Regions from separate parts of the Homo sapiens genome. Here region 2 is linked to region 1. The links come from fine-mapping of genetic effects on gene expression. A gene starts in region 1. The other region holds a variant in brackets. All regions are shown on one strand. Distances are between the middles of the regions. Region 1 holds the start of MAP2K6 (mitogen-activated protein kinase kinase 6). Region 2 overlaps MAP2K6 (mitogen-activated protein kinase kinase 6).

Region 1 (5,230 bases):
TCTTAGGGGCAGAAGCTAATATGGAGATTAGATTGCCTTCACTAATTGTCAAGAATGTCAGTAAAGGGGACCAACTTAAGTAAATTAATGTTAGTCTCACAACCTATTGCATATTTAAGATTTGATTTGCTGGTTTGCAGCTGAAATAAGACGGCTTCCTTCCCTCTAATGCATCCCTTATGCAGATGGTCCTGGCTTCCAGCATCCTAAATACAATTCCAATAGTTTTCATTAGTAATCATCAAATCTAGCTGAATCTTCTTTCAAAGTGCCTCTTTTTGCCTTTCACTACTGACCTAACCTATCTCTAGCCTCTCCCAGTTCCAACCCACCTTGATTGCTGAGGGCAAATTTACTTTCTTAAAACAATGCTTGGATTAAGTTACGCCCCTTTGCAAGACCCTTTCACCTCCCCGCAAGTACCTGCAGAATAAAGTCCAAACCTCTAGCCCACCTTTTAAGGCCCTGTGGAGTCCTCACCTGTAAATCTCCCCCGCCCTCACCACTCCTGCACACAAGGCAACAAGGTCTCCTTGGCAGCTTCTGAGTAAGGTTGTCCTTATTTCTGCCACAGTGCTTTGTCCACACCTCCTTGAATTCCTCAATTCCTCCCTCTGTCTTAAAAGAACATTTCTGAGTCTGTCTGCTCCATGAAGTATAAGTCCGAGCTCATTTTTGCCCATGCCCTGCTCACTCCTCTCCATTCCTTGCAGTGAATTGTGCTAAGCATCTCTGGCTTCCTTGTGAAAAAGGTGATGCCGTTCTCCATCAGGGTGCTGTGTACCCACTATGTGTGAGCGGTACAGAATGAATGAACATCCCAGGGCCCTAGAAAGGCGCCTGGCACATCCTGGACACTCAACAAGTATCTTTTAATTTTAATGAATAAATTCAAGATATTCGACTGTATTCATTTTCCACCCACTTTCCCCCTAGGCCAGGGACTCTCCTCCCAGGTGAGAAAAAATCATCTAGATACCTTAATTTTGATAAAGTTAGCGTTGATGTATAAAAAGCAGAACTTCCTCTGTAACCCTGTGAGAAATGAGAAGCCTCCAATCTTCTTCCCCACACCTACCCCCTACTGAGTTTCGGGTTCCTTGGAAATAACTGACCTGGATTGTTTCTGACAAAATAAAACTTTGCATCTTCTCCACAGAGCAAAGGTAACCTTACCTCCAGCCAACCCAATCATCCATACATTTTTCTTACTAGAAAAAATGTTTTTAAAAATGGAGGTGTGGCCGGGCGCGGTGGCTCACGCCTGTAATCCCAGCACTTTGGGAGGCCGAGGTGGGCGGATCATAAGGTCAGGAGTTCGAGACCAGCCTGGCTAAATGTTGACACCCCGTCTCTACTAAAAATTAGCCGGGCGTGGTGGCGCATACCTGTAATCCCAGCTACTTGGGAGGCTAAGGCAGGAGAATTGCTTGAACCCGGGAGGCGGAGGTTGCAGTGAGCAGAGATCGCGCCACTGCACTCCAGCCTGGGCGACAGAGCGAGACTCCCTCTCGGGAAAAAAACAACAACAACAACAACAAAAAAACCCCCAAACAAACAAAAAACGGAGGTGTGAGGGTAAAACGTCTACAGGCAAGAACAGCACAACAGGTGCTGAGCTGCAAAATCAACACACTAAACTCCCAAACAGACCTTCTCGACAAGCCAAAAGCTCTTTAGCTAACCTAATATTCTTTAGCTGTTGTTTCAGAGGCTTTTCGAGAACAAAACTGCCGCCCCGTCTTGGCCTTGCCGCTTTTCACCCATCACTCTACTGAGTGTGTGTCTGACTTGTTTATCTGGACGCAATCTTTGTCGCACCCAGTTATCTCGCTCAGCGACCGGGGCGACCACGTTTCCTTAAATCAGAGCCCCGTGGACTCCGCCGGAGAACTACATTACCCAGCGGCCTTCGCGCCCTTCGCAGGAAGGACGTCTGCGCACTAAGATACTCAGTTCCAAGTTTGGAGCTTTTAGCTGCCAGCCCTGGCCCATCATGTAGCTGCAGCACAGCCTTCCCTAACGTTGCAACTGGGGGAAAAATCACTTTCCAGTCTGTTTTGCAAGGTGTGCATTTCCATCTTGATTCCCTGAAAGTCCATCTGCTGCATCGGTCAAGAGAAACTCCACTTGCATGAAGATTGCACGCCTGCAGCTTGCATCTTTGTTGCAAAACTAGCTACAGAAGAGAAGCAAGGCAAAGTCTTTTGTGCTCCCCTCCCCCATCAAAGGAAAGGGGAAAATGTCTCAGTCGAAAGGTAAGAGGCTGTTTGCATTAGTTGCAAAAATGCAAAGGGTTGTGCATGCATTTATGAATGCATGGATGCAATTTTCGCCTGGCGAGTGCATTTTTAAGTTTGAGGTTTTCCACAGCTCAGTTGCATTTCCTGTTTAGTATGTGTCTTTTTTTGCAGACACAGAGAGTTCCTGTAAGGCAGGGCTTGCAGTTCAGCTGTGCATTGACGTTATTTGCATTCTTCTGCTAGGATTACTGAGCTCTTTTTGCCTTTTGCACAGTCAGGAGAGACAGAGCAGGTTGGTAGCGTCTAAATGTGCAAGGCTTTATATAATTGTAAAATTCTTTACTATGCACAGATATTGTAAGTAATTTTGTATGCAACAGGAATAGAAACTTTTAAAAACTCTATAGGTGAAGATGAAAGGTAAAACTTGAGTTAAACTACTAGGAAATTAATGTAATCTTATATTCTTTGGGGGAAATAGACCGTTGCGGTGCCAGTATTTAGCTAAATTTCCATTGATATCGCCTTGAACATTAGGTAACTTTTGATTTTTAAAGGAAGTAAAGGTGAAGGGTGAATAACAGCATATCACAAAAAAGCAGACGAGTCTTGCTCTTCTGAGATTTTGCACTTTACACCAATTGCTTATTGGCTCGCAAAATTTAGAAGCAGCAGTGAAGACCTAATGTTTTATGTCTGCCCATTTGGGGGATGCTTTGCATCTTGGGGGAAAATATTGGGGGTAAAACTGTACTTTTAAGCATTACAGTAGTGTGAAGGGACTGCACTGTTTCATTGACAAGCATAATGAAATATTTTAAGTGTGTAACTGCGTGTATTTAGTCAGCTGTAATAGGTTGGAAGTTCACGTTATGGTTGTTTTCTTTATGTTCTTTTATTTTCTTTTCTTAATTTTTGTTTTTAAACACAGTTGTATTTTGCAGGCTTAATGTCACCCTGGGAAGGGGATTTAAAAAATTCCTGATATGACATCAAAGAGCAGACTAGGTGCTGTCAGGTGCCCCTGGGACCCCAAGTCACTTGTTTCAGAACAATTGTTTCTTTACCATAGAGAAAGCATATGCCATATGAGAAGTATGGGATGATGAAGAGAGGTGTTAGATACTATTGAATTAGGCTACCCGGGGCACTCTTTGAGTAAGACATGGTGAAATTAAAGGGTCTAACAAGCTTTTTGCTACTTTTTTGGGAGGGAGTGTGGGGAGTTGTTGCACCGCTTTTTAATTCTACCTGATGGGAGTCATATATCTCAGCAGCCCAAGAAGGAAGTAGTAATCTCAAGCATTCAAAGTAGCACTCTGCTTTTCTTTGAGTATTAGGGGAGAATGGAAATCTGAAAAGTTAAGAGTGCTGAAGAACCTAGGAATTGACATATCAGGTGGAGATGTTCCTCAAGTGGGGAAAACCTAAAAATCTCCTTATTGAGTAGAGAAATAATAGTTCAGAAGAGGCAGTCCATGCTTTGATGTATTAAAGAGATGGCATTTAGTTACTTTGTATTTGGTAAACATTCGCTCATTCATTCAATTCAGTTTAATATATGTGTAATATATTGTGATATGCATGTATATACATATGTATGTGTGTATATATATGCATGTATATGTATGTATTGTGTGTGTATGTGTGCACATGATTTAGGGACACACAAAAATATTTAAAATGAAGTTTTTCCTTCGGGTTGGTGAAAACAAGAATGTAAGGAAATCATTATAATACAAGATAATAGGACAGGTATTGAAGAGAAATGGTGCTATTGGAGTTTAAAAATGGAAGTGATTTATCTATTTGGGGGATAGTCAGGAAGGTTTATGAAGAGGGTGGTGTTTACTGTGATCTTATCTTTGGACTTTAGGGTCTAAACTAAATCAGGCTCCTTTTTGCATATTTTTGGGCTCACTATGAACGTGGCTCCCTCTTAGTAGAGCCAGTTTTTGAGTTGAGAAGCCAAAGGAGATATTAGCACTGCACTCTTCCCTATGGATGTGTTTACAATGGATCAGGTACTGGTGGTCCTTCAAATCAATTCCCATTTACCCAGATGAGTTTTCTTAATTGGATTCTGCTTGGAAAGTACATCTGGAATGAACATGGGGTTCTTGTCCGAAAGGAAAATTATTGGTAGAAAGAAGTGGGTGATCATTTTAGAAATGGCAAAAGAGCCAGCCGCCTTGGCCTGGACTTTAAATGTGGAATTGGCCTTATTCAGCTACGCTATTCTCAAATGGCCAAAATACTTTTTGCAGTACCAAACTTCTTTTTTAATATTCTAACCCAAGAAATGGGAGGAAAAGTGAAAAGTGGATACAATCTCATAGTATTGAAGAATTTAACAATATGTTCAATTCAAGGACCTTTACGAACTTTCTAGATCACTATAATTCGGTTTAACAGACCTCTAATTTAAGGCACAGCAGAGGCAAAGGAATTACAGACTCTCTGGAAGCTGGAAGGACTGGGTTACTGCTCTACAGCCTTACCAACAGTGAGATTCCGAGAAAGAATTTCTTAAAAAGAAATTTTGTTTTCCACAGTTGTAACTTTAGGTGGTATGCTTTTCAGCTTGTTTATATTAGCTGTCTGGGGTTGAGTTGACATTTTTCAAATATTAAAGCAGTAGAATGCCTTTTGAGGAAATCTGAAATGTAAGTTAACAGGAAGGGCACCCAGAAAGTGCAGGAATTCCTGCACACTACAGGAAGACAAGCTACAGGAAAAATGTGTCATCTACACTACCCGGGAGAGAAAAACTATTGTTATCAGCCATAATGATCTCCGGAGGGAGGGAGAGAAAGAGGGAGGTAGGGAGATCTGGCATCCCCCAGTTCACCTGAAAATACACAAAAAGTTTGACCCTGTTAAAATACACTTTTCTCACTTCTCCTCCTATTCACCTTTAAAAAATATTAGTTTATTTTAGTTTTAGAGAGCAATAAGTAAATCATGTAAGAAATGCCTATGAGGCA
Region 2 (5,230 bases), 87 kb after region 1:
AGTAATAAATAAATGCAGAAGTAAATAAATAAATACAAAAATAAAATAATTCTAGATTGTGAGAAAAGGTTTGCGGGAAATGAGTGGAAGATGGTCGTGGAGATCTATTGTAGAGAGAGTGGACATTTTTCAACTAAAATATCAAAGTTTCAGGGAAGCTGCTTTGAGCTCATATTGTGTTGCAGGCTGAGTGTAAGGTGCCAGAATGTGAAAGCAGGAATGTGTGGATAGTAATCCTTAGATTGTGTTCAGGAAGCTCTGGGAAGGTTCTATGAGGGAGGTTTTGAATTTGGAAGGTTGAGTTCTTGTCTGCAAGACAGCTAGAGCCCTCCAGGTAGAAGGAACAGTATGAGCAAAGGTAAGGTCTTAGGAGATTCATTCTGACTCTGAAATCAAACTGACTGCAGGTTTTAAAATGAGCTTTTCAGCTGGGCACAGTGGCTCACACCTGTAATCCCAGTAACAGCACTTTGGGAGGCTAAGGCGGGCGGATAACCTGAGGTCAGAAGTTTGAGATTAGCCTGGTCAACATGGCGAAACCCCATCTCTACTAAAAATACAAAAATTAGGCGGGTGGGGTGGCACGTGCCTGTATTCCCAGTCGCAGCTACTCGGGAGGCTGAGGGCCATGAGAATTGCTTGAACGTGGGAAGCAGAGGTTTCGGTGAGCCTAGATAGGACCACTGCACTCCAGCCTGGGTGACAAAGTGAGACTCTGTCTCAAAAAAAAAAAAAAAAAAAAAAAAAAAGGCCGGCCATGGTGGCTCACGCCTATAATCCCAGCACTTTGGGAGGCTGAGGCAGGTGGATCACGAGGTCAGGAGTTCAAGACCAGCCTGACCAACATGGTGAAACCCCATCTGTACTAAAAAATACAACAATTAGTTGGGCGTGATGGCGGGCACCTGTAATCCCAGCTACTCAGGAGGCTGAGGCAGGAGAATCACACAAAGCCGGGAGGCGGAGGTTGCAGTGAGCTGACATTGTGCCACTGTACTCCAGGCTGGGTGACAGAGCAAGATTCCATCTCAAAAAAAAAAGAAAAAAAAAAAGAGGTTTTCAGCTTTTCTTCTCTAAACTTTCTGTAATTCCAGAGAGATTTGTCTTCAGTGTTTGGAATCTCAGTGGTATATAAGAGCCAGTGGTTTTGGAAGATTGGAGGATGGCAGAGTCCCTGTTCACTTTTACATTGCTGTTGCAAAGCCAGCTTTCTTCCTGCATGCCTCTTCCCCTGCCCTGCTTCGTTCGTTGCTTTGCATATGATGATTGCAATTTAATAACACTGAATGATACTTCACTGCTGGTTTTATTGCCAACTACCCTTGGAACGTAAGCCTAGATGCAAGTAGTAAGGAGAGGGCAGCCAAGGCCTCTAGATTGCCAGTTACTTGGCTGGAAATCCCATTCATATTGGGAAACAGATTTTTAAAATAAATTTGGCACTGGAAACACTGCCATCCTTTTGTGAAGCTGTGTCAATAATCATAAACTCTCATAGTCGTGCCCCCAACCCTCGGCCAAGCTAACAAATATTTAGGCATCAGCATATCTTCACGATGCCACCTTCTGTTGACCGCGTGGGCTTCTCATGCTGTTTGGGTTGGCAGTGGAACATAATCTTCTGTTTTATGTAATGAGGAACATCAGAGGAGTGCTTTGTGCTTACCCTCTCAGAGTGTGTGCAAGACCTCTCGTGTACCCCATCATTTTCGGTGCAGTCAAAGCTAGCGAACATTTCTGTGGCCTGGTAAATATTTTCTAACTATTGGCAAGGCTTTTTAAATTTTTTTTTCCAGTGCCATTTTGCTCCAGGCCAGGATTATAATGACCCAGCTTTGCTTTGGTTTCAGATGAATTTTGCAAATATATGTGTGTGGTGGGATTACACTATTTTCAGAGAACACAGTCATGCGGGTAACAGGGTCTGATGCAATATAGTGCTGCATATGCCCAATCAGGCCGACGAGGCTTACCCTTTGCAGACTGTGCCAATAAGCAGTCGAGGCTTGTTGCGATCTGCAGAAATCTACAGAATTCTCTGTTTCCGAGAAGGCTTGTTGCTAGCATATGACATCATAGAAAGCCTTTTTTTTTTTCTGACATTTTTTCTGCTTTGCTTTAGAATATCAAAGGCAAAGACTGTTGAACATAGTTGGCCACTTAGCTTTATTATTCATAGTGCTCCCTCCCATGTTTTTTTTTTTTTTTTTTTAACAGTGTTCAATGTTAGCGTCAGGTGTTGGCTGCCTTCCTGGGGGAACAGATTGCTGTGAAGTAAACACAGCTGGAAACTGACCACATATTGTTTTTCTTTCTTTTAAGAAATCAAAGAGGCATTTATAGAAAAGCTGCAGAACATGGTACTGTCCAGATTTATAGATTTATTCCTCCAAGTCTGGTTAATGATTAATGTCACGCCTGGGTGTCCACATAGACCCACTTCCCTTCTCCCTTCCTGAAGCTGCA[A/G]TTTCCTCGGAACAATGAGCTTGCAGAGGTTTGCTGCAATCCGAACTTGAGGAGGGGGTGGAGTCTGTTCAGTTCTGTTTCTCCTTGCCGAAGTGTGGTCTTTGGAGCTAAGTGAAGAATGACTTCTGTTAGGTTTTCCTCTGCTGGTCTTCCTTGCAGCCTCGAAAACCTCACCAGAGTCGCCTCTGCTGGTCTCTTACTGTGCTGCTCTGTCAGAGATGGGCAAGTAAGCGAACTGCAGAGTGTTGCTGTGTGTGCTTGTGATTTGTATTTTATTTGATGTAAACGTGAAGGCAGAGTATTTTCTAACACTGTAATTCAACTAGGTTTTGTGTCTCCTGGATCTATTTTTTTTTCTTGTTGTTCTGAGGAGCTGATATACTTGGAAATATTAGGTTTAAGATATGCAGATGTCCAACTTATATACATAGTCAAGGGTTTAGAGTCTGGAGACAGGAGGCTGGCAATTTCAACTAGGAGGCAGTAAATTCAGGGTAAGAATGATGTTGATGTGGGGGGCTGTGGGGGTGGCTGGGTGTAACAGTGATCTGGGGAGAGAATCAAAGGCCTTCTCCTCCCACTTGGAAGACTTTACTATTATTTTGGTCTTTTATTCCTTTGGTCTCTGTGCTAAAAACTTTCTCTCTTTTTTACTGTTTCTTTGTATAGATGTTTTGGTGATTTAAGTTATGGTGTAATAATTAATTGCTGTTAAGAATTGCTACTAATTACTTGCTATATTAAAGTTTTCCAAAGGGGTTTTCTCAATAAATAGCTATTTCTCTTTACATCTATCTTGTAAGAACTGAGTTAGAGGTAAAGAAGAGAAAGATGTAGGAATTTAAGAGTAACTTCTGCTTTTGGTTTGCTTAAATGACAACTGGAGACCAGTTTTCATAGGCAAAATATATGTTACTTTAGTTTTTGTTTTCGTTGAGAGAACTGTAGGGTCGCCTTTTGGGATTACCTGAATTATCTGTCACCTGCACTGGAATTTGTATGTAGTTATCTGTATAGTTATCTAAACAAGTTGAATCCGTCATTCATTCCTCACTGAAGAATCTCATCGAAAGTAACATTCCCTGTCTGTTTGGCTGAGGTGCATGGATGGGAATTGTTGGAATTAGGCCATATATCTATTTGGATTCTCATAACTGGGTCCAGCACCTAGCATAGTTCCTGGTACATAGGAAAGCTCTATGCGATGTCAATAACTGACTAATTTAGTAACATCCTTAACAGCTGTTTGAGTTCCAAGAGCAGGAAAGTGAATGGTGAGTTTTGAACCTTATAAAATACATAAGTAAACCCAAATGAGGAGAGAATTGAGAAAGCCTCTTATTCTGAAGGTGGTCCTAAAAGGCTTTCTCTAGGCTGATTACTGCGAAGCATATTTTTTCCTGGCTATATACAACTTGGCAGAATTGATCTGATTTTGGATTCTGAAGGAATTGAAAAATTTCATTATACATTATAGTGGGCTATAATGATGTGGCCAGTTCTCTTCATTAATTTTTTAAATGACTTTAAAAAAAATGAGACAGTACTGATTGTTTCCCTAAATGAATCTAATTAACAGCTACTTAAGGTATCTTAATGTTTTTTCATATATGTTATCTGCTTTGATTCTCATATCAGTCCAGTGAGGTGAGTATGGTTGTTACTTCCTCATTTTACAATTGAGAAAACTGAGAGTCAGATGAAAAGTGATTCTAGAAGTTGCGTGATGCGTGGAAGAACCAGATGTCAGCTGGGTATTTTAAAACTCAAAATCCCGGGTACGTCTCACCTGCCCCCTCTCCAGTCATCTCTAAACGTCTTCTATTGCAGGATAGTAGAAAGAACTCCCACCTGGGTGTCAGGAGACCTGGATTCTGATTCTGACTGGGTCATTGCTGACCTCTGTGATGTGGAGCAAGTCACTGAAGTCTTTGGATGTTATTTTTCTGCAAGGAGGTTATTTTAATTGGTTTAAGTTTCTTTGCAGCTTCAGGATCTATCCAGGGCCATATCCAGGGCTTGTGTTATCTCTGAGTGCTCATCTGCAATGTAGAGAAGAGGTGGGAAAGGAGGTAGGATTCTTTTTTTTTCTTTTTTTTTTTGAGACAGAGTCTTGCACTGTCGCCCAGGCTGGAGTGCAGTGGTGTGATCTCAGCTCACTGCAAGCTCCGCCTCCCAGGTTCACGCCATTCTCCTGCCTCAGCCTCCCCTGTAGCTGGGACTACAGGTGCCTGCCACCATGCCCGGCTAATTTATTGTATTTTTAGTAGAGACAGGATTTCACCGTGTCGGCCAGGATGGTCTCCATCTCCTGACCTCGTGATTCGCCCGTCTCGGCCTCCCAAAGTGCTGGGACTACAGGCATGAGCCACCGCGCCTGGGCAGAAGGTAGCATTCTTTCCAGCCATTCTATGCAGCTCTCCCTTGGTTTCCCCTGCCAAGTGCAAAGAGACACAGGATCTCCATGCATGAGGAAAACCCCAGGCCCTTGTTTGCTCTGTTCTGCTTCCTGAGCTGGCATTTCTCAGTCTGTTCTTTTTTACTCATCAACAAAAGTATTCGAGCCAAATTCTCTTGTAATTTCAGCCCAGGTGTGATCAACATCAAGTTACCTTTCCATTTGGCCCAAGAAGAAGTTATAACTTCCTTGCATAAGCTCATCTGTTATCTTAATCCTTTCTGGAACAGGGAAAATGTAAATAAGTATTACTCTATCCCTCTCTTAAGTTTTTCAAATTACAGCAGGTGGTTGGGAAAAGGGGAG

The links.
Region 2: its variant is fine-mapped to the expression of MAP2K6 in whole blood (TOPMed, PIP above 0.99).

What each region holds. Positions count from the first base shown.
Region 1 is chr17:69,412,743-69,417,972 of GRCh38, forward strand. MAP2K6 (mitogen-activated protein kinase kinase 6) reads left to right here and starts at 1,955. Exons shown (of 12, transcript NM_002758.4): 1 at 1,955-2,258. The coding sequence starts at 2,243.
Region 2 is chr17:69,499,726-69,504,955 of GRCh38, forward strand. All of the region lies in intron 1 of MAP2K6 (mitogen-activated protein kinase kinase 6), which reads left to right. Among named protein-coding and RNA genes, the nearest start is that of MAP2K6-AS1, 17 kb to the left of the region's middle. RefSeq lists enhancers at 4,238-4,287, 4,358-4,417. The variant A/G (reference allele first, on the strand shown) is at 2,467.